4 linked regions of the Homo sapiens genome follow. The protein of the gene in region 3 interacts with the protein of the main gene of each other region in a pairwise test. Each region holds a gene or a part of one and is shown on either strand. Other genes may lie near its edges.

Evidence for each region. The genes of interacting proteins can lie anywhere in the genome.
Region 1: the proteins of BNIP3 (region 3) and SLC35B1 interact in binary tests that used the Homo sapiens proteins (3 or more experiments, as listed by UniProt).
Region 2: the proteins of BNIP3 (region 3) and FAM3C interact in binary tests that used the Homo sapiens proteins (3 or more experiments, as listed by UniProt).
Region 4: the proteins of BNIP3 (region 3) and EBAG9 interact in binary tests that used the Homo sapiens proteins (3 or more experiments, as listed by UniProt).

The regions. Positions count from the first base shown.
Region 1 is NC_000017.11:49,705,165-49,709,419, forward strand, and holds the start of SLC35B1 (solute carrier family 35 member B1), read right to left. Parts: upstream 2,801-4,255; 5' UTR 2,781-2,800; coding exon of another isoform or gene 2,670-2,780; coding exon 2,566-2,669; intron 2,281-2,565; coding exon of another isoform or gene 2,179-2,280; intron 1,905-2,178; coding exon 1,801-1,904; intron 1,171-1,800; coding exon 1,040-1,170; intron 733-1,039; coding exon 702-732; intron 118-701; coding exon 1-117.
Region 2 is NC_000007.14:121,358,309-121,361,808, forward strand, and holds part of FAM3C (protein FAM3C precursor), read right to left. Parts: intron 1,820-3,500; coding exon 1,735-1,819; intron 1-1,734. UniProt on the Homo sapiens protein: May be involved in retinal laminar formation. Promotes epithelial to mesenchymal transition.
Region 3 is NC_000010.11:131,969,554-131,971,923, forward strand, and holds part of BNIP3 (BCL2/adenovirus E1B 19 kDa protein-interacting protein 3), read right to left. Parts: intron 1,981-2,370; exon of another isoform or gene 1,418-1,980; coding exon 1,311-1,417; exon of another isoform or gene 1,235-1,310; coding exon 1,085-1,234; exon of another isoform or gene 102-1,084; coding exon of another isoform or gene 74-101; intron 1-73. UniProt on the Homo sapiens protein: Apoptosis-inducing protein that can overcome BCL2 suppression. May play a role in repartitioning calcium between the two major intracellular calcium stores in association with BCL2.
Region 4 is NC_000008.11:109,543,173-109,546,672, forward strand, and holds part of EBAG9 (receptor-binding cancer antigen expressed on SiSo cells), read left to right. Parts: intron 1-3,500. UniProt on the Homo sapiens protein: May participate in suppression of cell proliferation and induces apoptotic cell death through activation of interleukin-1-beta converting enzyme (ICE)-like proteases.

The DNA of each region.
Region 1 (4,255 bases), on a different chromosome or scaffold from region 3:
CAACAACTTTCTTGGGTTTGTACATGAAAAGGGCCACTCCAGCCACAATTAACAGCACACACAGGTACTTGGCCAACGGGTACTTCTTCTTCAAGAGGGTCACCCCAAGGAGCATGACTACAGGGAAAAAACAGAGTGGAAAATTCAGGCATCCATAAGGTATTGATGACCCCAATGCCCTCCCTCCCAGGAACCAAGAAAAGACTCAGGGAGAAAAGAATGACTGAGAAGGAAGGCTTAGAGAGGACAAAAGGAGGGTGCCAGGCTGGCACCTAGATAAGGATTGAGCAACAGGGTTAAGTATAAGACAGGGAGGAGGTAGAGAACAAAGGTGAAAAGTCCAGGAAGGGACAGGACAAGGGTAGGGAACAGTGGAGAAGGAAAAGAAGTTGAGATAAAGAAACTGATGATCAAAATGGGAATTAAGTTGTCTAATGACAATATAAACACATGCAACACAGAAATGGCTGACCAAGTGAAGCAGGCTAGGTCAGCCTTTAGCTCCTATTAAGGATTACCAGCCTATGAACATCACAAGAAGTGACACAGATGACAGGATGGGCAGCAGGGAGAGCTGGGGGAAAGTCCCTGGAGACAGCCATGATGGGATGATGAAGCCGAGAGGGACACAGTTGTAGCAGAGAGAGAGCTTACTATAGGAAGAGTGACGACAGAAGAGGAAGACCATCTTCTTTGCTTACCTGGGATTGGCTTGCAGGATTTACCAAGGACCTGAAATTAAATCCAGCAAATAATTTCTGAGCATCTGTGATGTGTCAGGTACTATGCTAGGTACCGCACTGATTAAGATGAGTAAGCACAGGGCCTGCACCAGAGACCTCAGCCTCAGAAAGCAGCCCTATCATGGCCCAACCCACCACCACTAAACGTAAGTTCTATGGTTCTATACACTCCCAATGTCTTACAGGACCGTTATCTTTTTTTTTTTTTTTTTTTTAACTCACAGACCTGAGGGAAGAACTCTTAGTCCTTTTCAAATGATATCTGAGCCAACCATCATCCCACCCTGAGGTTTCACCTGAGTTGGGTAGTTGACAAACTGTAGTGCTGAATTGCTGGAGACCATGGCACCCAGATAGGAGATAGAACAGGCAGCATAGAGCCAGCTCCGGGTACGATCCACCCTGGCAGTGTCAAAAAACTGGATCACTGGGAGAAGACAAAAAAAAAAAAAAAAAAAGAAAAGAAAAGAAAAAAAAAAAAAAACAAGAGAAACCTGGTGGGGCTAGGATGGACCACTAAGCAAAGCTGAAGCCACATGAAAGGAACTTGTCTGTCAAACAAGACACAAGCTATTTCTGTCCTGTTACACTGGGAAATCTCTGAAAATTATTCATCTTTCCAATTCTACCTAAGCCCAACAAAAGACCACATGCAGGGTGGAGGTGGGGGCCTCATTCAGTTCAAGGGACCAGTCAGCTCTGCTGCTAGTCCCCAGGGAACAAAGAGAGAATGCTCAAAGCATGCTTGAAGCTGACACACAAAAGAAACTCAAAGGGAAAGAAAAAAATGTTTTAAGTATTTTCAATGGGGATTTGGAATATAGAAGACCCATTCTCTGAACATTTCTAACTCAGAAGCTGATAAAAATTGGGGAAATAATATTTTACTCCACTTCAAAGTCATTAGTTTTACAGACTTCACAGAGAGGCTGTGTAAGTACAAAATGGGGTGGAGATCATGAGTTAGCCTTTAAGGTTGAATCAATGCTTAATGCCCAGCATACTGAGGGAACTTGGGGTGGTGGGGTACCCAACAAATTACTATCTGGGTACTCACAGATCTTGGCAAACACAGCATTGATCACACATTGAATGAAGACCAAAGTTAAGGCAAAGGTGAACGTCTCCTGCTTGGCTCCTTCCCCATACTTTCCTCTTGTTCTAGAAATGAAATGCATGAGAAAAGAGGGAGAAATTAGTGTATTTCACTCACTGTCATCTAATATATCCCGAGCCACTGAAAACTTTAAAATTATCTTGCCTCTCTGGATGTAGGCAGAGTTTGTTAAGGACCACTAGGCTCATTTGCAAAAGGGGCTGATTTTACTGGATCTAGAAACTAGACATCCCAGCCTACTGATTCCAAAGCCTAAGAAAAGAATACCCGAAAAAGACGGAGAGGAAACATGCAGAACGAGATAGTGAAATCAGGTACCCCAGGCAGGAGGAGACGGTATTTCGGCTATGGCACCAAGGCCGAGGACGAATAGGTTGTTTGCAAGCATCTGGGAGTACCAAAAGGGGGCCGACTCGGGTCCTGTTTGAGGAATAGAAGTCTCAGCCTGTAAAACGCAGGCCCTTAGAACCAAGCGGGGAAAAACAGCTAAGAAAAGAAAATAACCAAGTCCGAAGAATCCAGAAAATAATCCTGGAGTTCTGGAATTCTGGGTAGGCTCAGCCATAGCTGCAAAAGTAGTAGGGTGCTAAGAGGGCGACAGCCGGGCAGGAGGACAAGAGGAAAGCCCGGGTCCAGAGGCAGAAGGCCCGGGATCCCTGTCACAGGCTGGGGAGAGACTGTCGGCCCGCCCCCGGGGTCGCTCACATCTTTTCCTGCAGGATCCCATAGTAAAAATAGCAGACAAAGACACCCAGGAAGCAGAGCGGCAGGCGCAGCCGGTCGGGCACCAGGGAGCTGCTAGAGGCCATGAGACGCCCAGAGGAGCCGACTGGAGACCCGCTCACAACCGGCACCGGCAGCAGCGGCGGCGGAGGCGACAGCTCCAGCCGGACATCGCCGACCGGCGGCAGGGGCCTCATAGGAGCTGCATGCGACCGCTGTCCAGCAGGGCCCAGCAGTCACTACCAGAACTGCCGGCTCATGGCTGCCAAGGGGGAAACTCCTCAGAACCCAGCAACCACTTCCTAGGAAAGAAAACCCGCCCTGGGACCTTGGCTCCATCCCTGAGGGCCAGGGGAACCGGCAGCCTCGAGACTGATCCCTCGCCCTGGAGATTTTTCCAATCAGGCAACTCTGAGGACAACTGCGACCCAGAGCACCACAGGGTGTCCTAGAGCCACCTGGGCGTAGAATAATGACGTATAAGGATGTGGAGGCCACCAATTGGCTGCGCTGTGCGAAGACGGACAGGTAGGCGGGGCGGGAGGAGGTGTGGTCGGCAGAGCAAATCCAATAGTCTTTTCCGCGGCGGGCGGCCAGGCTTCTGCTGGGTCCTAATGCCAAATTCCTTACTGGAGCTTCAGCGCCGTCTAGCTGCTGCCCAGCGTCAGCGACTTTACCTGCTCATTACCTAGGCACATCACTAGGCTTCCAAGGGGGAGAGCGGCACAGTAAGTCTCGGCTTGGTCACTTAAAGGCGGGGTAACCTACCCGTGTCACCCAAGTTCTGAGCCAGAGTTTTCCAGGTCTGGAAACTAGGGATAATTAGTAATAGCCACCTTGTCGCCTCTTGGCTGTTGTGAGGATCAAATAAGAGTGTTTTGTAAACTGTAAAGTATGCTGTGCAAGCTTAAGGTATTATTAGTCATCACTGTTTGTCAGCCCTGATCTTATTTCCTCACATCGAGGGGTGGAAATGGAAGCTTACTGAAGTCAGTTTTCTTCCAAGTCTTAACAACTCACCAACAATGGCGCAAACCCTTCGGCCGCGCTCCTGAATATTTCCCATTAATGAGCTCCTCGTTGGATCCCTTCCTCATGCAAGTGTTGGGTCTTCACTTGCTGGCACGAATTGCCAGGGCAAGACTGACCTCAGGTCTTCCTACTACTACCTCCAACCCCCTACTTAATTGGCCCAAATCTCCGGCCACCTGGTGGACTCTGGGCTGCTCTCTAGGTCGAGGCTCCTCTTCTAGCAGCCTGCTCTTTTGGCACAGCCTCAGGCAAAGGAAGGAAATACTGGGCAGCACCACACCCATCGCTCCGGGCCTGACTCAATAAGGCTTTGCGGGGGAGCCAGAAGTCTTTTAGAGGGAGGAGTAAGGGATAGAAGATAGGGTGTCCCCAGCCCACTGTCTCCTCGATATTAGTGGCATGGGAAAGCCCCATACATTTGCTCTCTTGCTCACTAGCTTACTCTACTGGCTCAGCCCGCGATGCCAGGGCACCAAATAGCTGGGAAGAGAGACCTGCCAGCTCTACTTCTTTACCAGCTGGGACCTCAAACAATTCGCTTGTCCTGAGTCGAGTTTCCTCACGTGAAATTAATGGGAATATAATAACAAGCAGGAGAGCGCTGTGGTTAGAAACATGGGCACTGGATTCAAATGATCAG
Region 2 (3,500 bases), on a different chromosome or scaffold from region 3:
TCTTGTAGTATTAAGGCTCTGTCAATTAAAATCTATAAAATCTATAAATCTTGTAGTATTAAAGCTCTGTCAATTAAAATCTATAAAGGATGTTTTTTATCCTTGATAAGTCATCTGAAGAAAAGTCAGAGAAAAAATTATTTTTTTCTAGAAAGAAGAACATTAAAGGGGATTTAATCTCAACCAGAGAGGCATGAAGTACAATTACTTTTATAAAACAATTTTAAAATAATTGAAATAGTGTCTTTTTGGAACAGAGATAAACAGGTCAAGTGAATGGAACAGAACAGAAATTCCAGAGATAAAGCCAAATCTACATAAGAACATAGGCATTGTGTGTCATGGGGAAATTACAAATGGGTTTTTAAAAATACATGACAACAGTGAAATCACTGGAAGAGAAAATCTACTAAATATCTAACCTGGAGGTGGAAAAATACTTCTCAAGTATACAAGGAGAGTGATAGAAAAATACATAGACTATATAGGCATTAGTCTAAAATTCTAAAATTCAAAAAGCACCCTACACTAACAAAATTAAAAGCAAATAATGTACAATAAATACATTTCTTTTTACATTAGAAATGGTTAATATCCTTAAAACGTGAAGGGGTCTTACAAGTCAAGATAGGCCAACTCGAATGGTCAAAAGACAATTTACATAAAAAGGCAAAAGAAAAAAAAACCACTTGTGAAAAAAATCCAATCTCAATAATAAAGGCATATTAAAATAAGATACCTTTTCAAACTCTTAAAATTGAAACTTAAAAAAATTAACAATTGGTGCCATGGAACTTCTGAGAAAAATATAAAATTGGTAAAAAAATTTTTAAAATCCATTTTTAAAAACATGCACATCCTTTAATTAATCATTTCCACTTTAAAAAAAAGAAGTCTATCTTAAAGACATAGACATGGACTGTTCAAACATTTCTAAGATAGTCTATTGTGCTAAGTATGCAAATTGGAACTAGTCTGGGTCCAGCAATAGGCAACCCATTAAACAGGTTATAAATCATGACATTTTAAAAACCAGACTAGGCAGGCATAAACAATTTTTTATAAAGAATATTTAATAATAAGGGGAAATATTCACCACGTAAGTGAAGAGATATGCTATAAATACTAGCATTCTAAATATTTAATGCCAAAAAATGTGTCTTAAGTCATCTGGAATAGAAACTAAAATATCATCAATGTTTACACTGGGTAGTGAGATGGACTGGAACTTGGTCTCTTTGCGCTTTTCTATAATTTTCCAAATTTTTACAACATATACTATTTTAAGAAAAAGTTATAAAACTACTATATATTAAAATTATTTAAAATATAGCACACCTGTATCTTTGACAATTAACTCCATTTCTTGAAATTTACCCTAATGACATAATAATAGGGAAACTTTAAAGGTGAGCCCATAACTGCTGATGAACCATAAAAATGCTATTGAAGAATATTAATGCTAGGAAAAACAATTTCAGAATGTTAAAAAACAAAACATAAAAGTATAAAAAATGTTACATATGATGTGATTCTAATTTCATGACAATATATGTGTGATAAACATTTACATATAAAACCAGGAAGGAGGCAAAGTAAAAACAAAAATTGTTAGTTGTGTTTACCTGGTAGTTTGATTACTTTGCTCTATGTTACAGATTTTTTTTTAATGAAAATGTATTGCTTTTATAATTACAAATTATAGTTCCAAAAAGTTCTGTAAAGTTTACATACTTGGTTGCTCCATCATCGTATGTTCCCATTAAAACTATTGTTCCATCTTGTATGGCCTTCAGAAACTCAATAAATGGTGCCACATCTGAAGAAAAAGAAAGGGTTTAGGGTTTTAAAAAATGACTGAATAAGCATCACGATAATCTCTGAAAGTAGTATTATAAAACATGAAGTATCTGTAAAGCAATAATTTCCAATGTAAAGTAATCCAAAAGACAGACAAATCTCATAAAGAGTTTAAAAACTGTTAAATTTGTCCCTTAACATAATCCCACTATCAACTTACAATTTCCCATTCCTGATTTATCCTGTGTCTTTCGTATTGATATTCCTGGGGCTAAGTGAAAAAAATCATAGCAAAGTAAAGCATGACTTACGAAGTAAGAAATTCAGAGATCTCTCAGATTTGAATAATTGGGATCCTGAAAACCTTATTCTGGGGTCCATGCATAAGCTTAAGGAGGCATGGGAGGTGTGTGGACTCCTTAAGTGTATGTAAAATTGTATGGGCTGAGCACAGTGACTCACATCTGTAATCCCAGCACCTTGGGAGGTCAGGGCTGGGGGATGGCTTGAGCCCAGGAGCTTGAAACCAGCCTGGGCAATATAGTGAGACCTCATCTCAACAAAAAAATTTAAAAATTAGCCGAGCTTGGTGGCACATGCCTGTAGTCCTAGCTACTCAGGAAGTTGAGGCAGGAGAACTGCTTTGAGGCCAGGAGGTGGAGGTTGCGGTGAGCTGAGATCACACCACTGCACTCTAGCCTGGTTGACACAGCAAGACCCTGTCTCAAAAACAAAACAAAAAAACAAAAACGAAACGAAAAAAAGCATAACAATGTTTGTATGGGTACTTTACTAGAAAGAGGATACACAGCTTTTCTCCGATTCTCAAAGATATCTGTAATTTTTAGAAAATCTAAAAATACATATACACACAGATTTAAAGGCTATTTTAGGTATATCATTTGCTATAAACTGGGAGAAGGAATATGTTAGGTGATCACTAAAAGCCAAACTAATTGTAGCAAATATTACAGTCATTACTCATTTGATCTACCAAATCAAAATCCACAAGGACTTCAAAATAAACCACTTCAATGACTATAAACTGTTGATGCCAGATACATAGGTCAGATTCTAAAAACCACTTGACATCTTGAACTCTTTACAATGTCTGGGTTCCTTATAGCTCTGAAGTCTAATTCTACTCCAAAACTGGGTTACTTCAAATGTACTCAGTTTCTTTCCACAGCAAAGATGCCAAAGATTTTCGATAACTGATTATATTTCATAATAATAGCATTTTCAATTCAAAAAGATATAACAAGGCAGCTAACAAACTACTTCCATTTAAATGCAAAAGTGGCAATAAACTGCAACAATTTCCTAACTAGAAGAATGCTGCTAGCGGTAATTAATCTACCTGTGACAAGAGAAGTAAGGAATACCAGAGCTCCTGGTCACATGACTGATTTCAACAACAGCTTTGTAAGACTCTTTCTATCAATAAATTTTGGCAGGACCAATTTATGCCTTTAGAATCTAAAATTGATGGTCCCATTTTAAGTTTATACAGCTTTGACAGCTATGCAATGTTGTCCTAACATTATTTAATAACAAAATAATACACGGCATCTTTTGTTTTTTTGAGACGGAGTCTGGCTCTGTCGCCCAGGCTGGAGTGCAGTGGCAAGATCTCGGCTCACCGCAACTTCTGCCTCCCCGGTTCAAGGGATTCTCCTGCTTCGGCCTCCCAAGGAGTA
Region 3 (2,370 bases):
TGGAGACACGGGCAGCGCTCAGGTCCCGGCCCAGGAAACTCAGTGGCTTTTATCCCGTTTCCTTCAACCCCAGATGTGAGCCCTCTGGCCAACCTACCTAACCCACCTGCCCCCAGTGGCATTCCGGTCTTTCCAGTCTGTCCAACACACGGCAGCCACAGAACACTGTCTGCACGCCAGGACTAGAGCCCTCCTCCCCGCTGAGAGGCTGGGACCAGCCCGAGGAGGAGCCGTTTTGGCTTCCCGCTCTGGCTCTTCACCACCGCTGCGGCGAACGCTCTTCAGAACCCACAGCGGCGCCTGCCTGGTCTCTGTGTTTTCTGCAGGGTGAGTGAGTATAAGCAGCCAGGAAAGGCCAGGCGCGGTGGCTCACGCCTGTAATCCCAGCACTTTGGAGGCCGAGGTGAGCCATCCCTTGAGTTCGAGATCAGCCTGGGCAACGTGGCGAAGCCCCGTCTCTATTAAAAATACAAAAATTAGCCAGGCCTGGTGGTGGGCACCTGTAATCCCAGCTACCCAGGAGGCTGAGGCAGGAGAGTCGCTTGAACCCAGGAGGCAGAGGCTGCAGTGAGCCGAGATCACGCCCCTGCACTCAGCCTGGGCAACAAGAGCGAAACTCAAGCCAGTAAAGTCGGAGACTGCATTGGTTCCTTCATTGCTGAGAGTTACTAGAACAACAGTCCTGTCTGGAGGAAGTACAGCAGGTAACTGAGACCCTCCACCTACAGCAGAGCTGGGTGCATTCCCGCCACAGTACTACACAGAAATGAGACTGCTTTCACCTACACACAGGACAAAGAGGTCAGACCTAAGAAGCCCTGCTTTGACTCCGTTTATATTCAGTGAGCAACAGGCAGACTCGTCAGGCCAGACAGCAGCACCACAGGGCGCCTGTGCTGGGGCCTTTGGGGGCTGCAGGCTGGTGGTTTCTGGACCTGAACAGTGACTACGTGGGTGTTTGTGAAAATGCACCAAGCTGTAACTGATGATCTGGACTTCAGGAAACAGGTTACGAATAAATCACTGCAACCCAGAATCGCCCCACGACATGCCATGACAGGAGTCACACAGTCACATCACCTACCCCAATCCGATGGCCAGCAAATGAGAGAGCAGCAGAGATGGAAGGAAAACTTTCAGAAATTCTGCAGAGAATATGCCCCCTTTCTTCATGACGCTCGTGTTCCTCATGCTGAGGGTGGCCGTGCGCTTCGGGTGTTTAAAGAGGAACTCCCTGAGGCGGGAAGAAACGTGTCAGCTGATGTGTCCTCTGTCAAGGGGTGCCCCCGTGACACTGAGAACACACTCACTTGGGGGGAATATTTTCCGGCCGACTTGACCAATCCCATATCCAATCTGAGTTTTTCTTCAAGATGCTTTCAACTTCTTTCCTTCTTTCAATATCATCTTCCTCAGACTAAGATAAAGTCAATGTTAAAGGCAGATCAGTGTACCACACGTGACACGGGAAAGCACCCAGCTCCCACCCGAGCTTCAGATCCGCAGGCTCAATTCAAGAGCCCAGAGGCACATGTCAGTGCCTCGGACCGTGGTCCAAGGGGAGTCCTGGGGCTGGGGGCCTTCCCCGGGCCGCGCCGCACTCCCGGCTCACAGCACGCTCGCCGCCTCCAGGGACAGATCACCTCTGGGGGAGCCCCACTCAGGGCGTAAATACATTTGGTTCACTGTGAGATTCTGGGGGTACTGACAGCGGCAAACACTGTCCTAGGGAAGTCACGTGACATGAGGGCAAAGATGGTGACGGCAGCACTGGTTATAAGAAAAGAAAATGAAAACAGCCGAAAACGGCTCAAAACAGGGACATGACGAAGGAAGGGACACTGTATAGTGAGCAGGTTTACAAGATGCTTCCGGGATAAGCAGGAGGGAAAAGGCAGAAATGTCCACATAACCACAGCTGCGGCCAAATCCTCAGAATTATATAACAGCACGAAACATTAAAGAGGATTTTAAATCTGAGAGTCTAAGTGTTTTTCTCTACTTTTTTGCATTTTCAAAATTCTGTACCTGAACATCTAATTCCTTTTAAAACTAGGGGAAGTTTTGTGTAAAACAGTGAAAACGGCAAGACCCTGTCTCAAAAAAAAAGAAATAAAATTGAAAATACTCAAGAATATAGCTCCCCAAACCCACCAAACATCTGGGTACACCCAAGCTGGGTACAGCCCCAAGTGCCCAGGAGCAGGCCGCACGCCCTGGATGCACCCACACACCCACAGCCAGGGCTCCTGGGGCTCCCGAAATCATGCTGCCCCTCGGAGTGGGGCCAGGGGATGTCCCTGAGAAAGCCTGGGTAACAGGGACTCCTTGTTTCCTTGGTGAAGAAAGCCTTGAGGGAAGCGCTAGCAC
Region 4 (3,500 bases), on a different chromosome or scaffold from region 3:
CACTGTTCTTTTCATCCTGTCAATTAGTAGGCCACTTCCAGGTTAGGCATTCAGTAAATCTTTCAGCTTATATGGAGAGACAGCCTCCATATGTACAAAACTACTTGAGTATTGCTAAGGTAACATTTTAGAGCCCTGTCTTTGTACCTTAATAGCCTACAAGCCCCTTCTGACCCTAGAAATAGAAAAGACTAGTGTGCGTTTTGCCTTTCCTTAGAAGAAATTGGCAATGATGCCTTTACAGAGCAATCAAGATCAGATACTATGAGAGTTAAGTATGTTTTTCTGGCTTTCTGATTTTGTTTTGTTCTTATTTTTTATGTGTTTGTTTGGAACTTTCGTATTGAGGTATAGCATACAAACAGTACATACAGTCAAGTATGTGGTGTTACTACTCAGATTGAGATATTAGATCTTAGCTCTCTAATGCTTCAGTATACCCTATCAGAGATGACCATTTTTTTTTACTATATAATTTTTAACCTATTCAATGTAATATTTTATTAGGTAAAAAGCTGCTTTTTTCAAGACTTTAGGAGTCTTGAATCCCCATGAAATGCATTTTTAAAAAGCATGGGCTGGGCATGGTAGCTCACACCTGTAATCCCAGCACTTTGGGAGGCTGAGGCAGGCAGATCACTTGAGGCCAGGAGTTCGAGACCAGCCTAGCCAACATGGCGAAACCCCGTCTCTAGTAAAAATACAAAAATTAGCGGGTGTGGTGGCATGTGCCAGTAGTCTCAGATTTGGGGGTGGCTGAGGCACGAGAATAACTTGAACCCAGGAGACAGAGGTTGCAGTGAGCCAAGATTGTACTGCTACACTCCAGCCTGGGTGACACAGCAAGACTCTATCTCAATTAAAAAAAAAAAAAAAAAAAAGTATGTTATAGTACAGGGATGGTGTATTTATCCAGGATGATTTTACTCCTTATGTTTCTAAATGTTATTGCTTATCTTATGCTCATGTAAGGTAATTAAAAAACTAATTAACATTTCAATTTTAAAAAGGTATATAGCTGTCCCTTTAATGTGGTCACATGATAATTATTACTTAAGTTAGGTTTTATCCGCTTTTAAGTAAGTATGTGTAGAACTGAAGTCCAAATATACTGCTTGTGCTTTTTTATTCTGGGAAAAAAAACTATCAAATTACTGTATGTTTTTTCTTTTTGTTTTAAGAAGTCAGCACTCTAAATAATTGTATTAATCAAGTGTTGTGATTGTTTCTAAAGGTGTTACTAATGGATTGAGAGGCCAGTCTGTTTTAGTTGTGATTTTGTTATTACCTGGTTGTTTCACCTTGAGCAGAACCGTTAACTTCAGTGTATCTTAGTTTCCTCATTTAGAAAATTTAAGAAGTTGGATGACGTATTCTCCAGCTGTTCCAATGACAGGAATCATGATTCTGAATACATAGTAATTCTCCTCCTTTGACAAAGAGAAGGCAAGGAAAAGCTAAGACATGAGATTCCATTATCAGTAATGTTATTCCTGTAAGTGTGTGCACATATGCACACACATATGTATGTTTGCCTGTGTATTTCTTGTGACTTGATTTAACATGTGGTCTGTTCTACCTCTCAACAGTGGAAAAATGACTATCTCTAATGGATTAACAGATTTTTTTCCCTCTTTCGTGTGTATTTTGAGGCTCTTAGTCGGGACATTGTCATAGTTACTTAAGTTTTCAACTTTAACTTGTGCCAAAACTCATCTTAAGAAATTTTTAAAATTAAATAGTGATTATTAGGGTAAATATATGCAGTACATATATAGTATACAATATATGCAATACATATATAGTATAGGTGACTAAGATGTATAAGAAAAATTTGGAAATTAAGAACCATGTTTAAAAAGGATACAGACCGGGCGTGGTGGCCCACACCTGTAATTTCAGCACTTTGGGAGGCTGAGGGGGTGGATCACTTGAGGTCAAGAGCTCGAGATTAGCCTGGCCAACATGCTGAAACCCTGTCTGTACTAAAAATACAAAAATTAACCTGGTGTGGTGGCAGGCACCTGTGGTCCCAGCTACTCAGGAGGCTGAGACAGGAGAATTGCTTGAACCCGGGAAGCGGAAGTTGCGGTGAGCTGAGATTGCACCATGGCACTCCAGCCTGGGCAACAGAGCGAGACTGTGTCTCAAAAAAAAAAAAAAAAAAAAAGGCTACCAAAATAATGCCAGTTTTACCTTTTTTTTTTTTGAAATGGAGTCTCACTGTGTTGCCCAGGCTGGAGTGCAGTCATGTGATCTCAGCTCACCGCAACCTCCGCCTCCCAGGGTTCAAGTGATTGTCGTGCCTCAGCCTCCTGAGTAGCTGGAACTACAGGCATGTGCCACCGCACCTGGCTAATTTTTGTATTATTAGTAGACGCGGGATTTCACCATATTGGCCAGGCTGGTCTCGAACTCCTGACCTCGTGATCTGCCCGCCTCAGCCTCCCAAAGCGCTGGGACTACAGACGTGAGCCACCGCGCCCAGCATAGTTTTATCATTTTTAGAATCTTTATTCCTATCATTGCTATGGCTGTAGTTTTCAATTCCTATATCATCTCTTTCATAAAGACATATATCTTGTTATTTAATCATAGGGAGGCAGTATGAGTGTGATATTTAAGGACTGAGACACTACAACCAGACTCTTTGGGTTCAAATTCCAGTTCTATAACTTATCAGTTCTGTATCTTTGGCAGCTTACTTAACCCCGCTGTGCCTTAGTTTTCTTATCTGAAGTAGAGACAAAATAGTACTTGCTTCAAGTCCTTCCCAGGGTTGTTGTGAGCATTGAATGAGTATTACATGTTAATCACTAAGAAGAATGCTTTTTATGAAATATAAAGTAAGCTATTACAGTATATTGAAATGCTATTGTGAAATCAGATTTCTGTTTTTAGAGAAGTTCTGAAATAATGTTTCTTTTCACTAATTGTCCTAGTTTCCTAATGGAAGTTGGCTTTCTAGAAAGTAACAAATAATTGATACAAGATTATGATGGTGTTAATGAGTTTTTAAAACAGTATTCTAACCAGAATATGAACACTGTTCTAATTTAAGTGACATAATATTGTTCAAAAATGTCTTCGTGTAGATTGTTTTAACAGCTCTTTTGAGCTCTAATTGAAATGCAATAAACTGTATATAATTAAAGTATACAATTTGATTAGTTTTGATGAATATATATACACTCACCTATGAAACCACCACAACTGAAGCCGTAAGTATATCCATTACCTCCAAAAGTTTCGTCATGTCTGTCAGTGATCCTTCCTTCCCACTTCTCCCTGCCTCATTACAAGGCACTGCTGATATTTTCTGTCACTCTATATTTGTTTATAATTTCTCGAGCAACCTTGTCCAGTCTGCTGCCTGTGGGCCTCATATAGCCCAGGATGGCTTTGACTGCAGCCCAATGCAAATTAGTAAACTTTCTTAAAACATTATGAGATTTTTTTGCAATTTTTTTAGGCTTATCAGCTCTGGTTAGTGTTAGTGT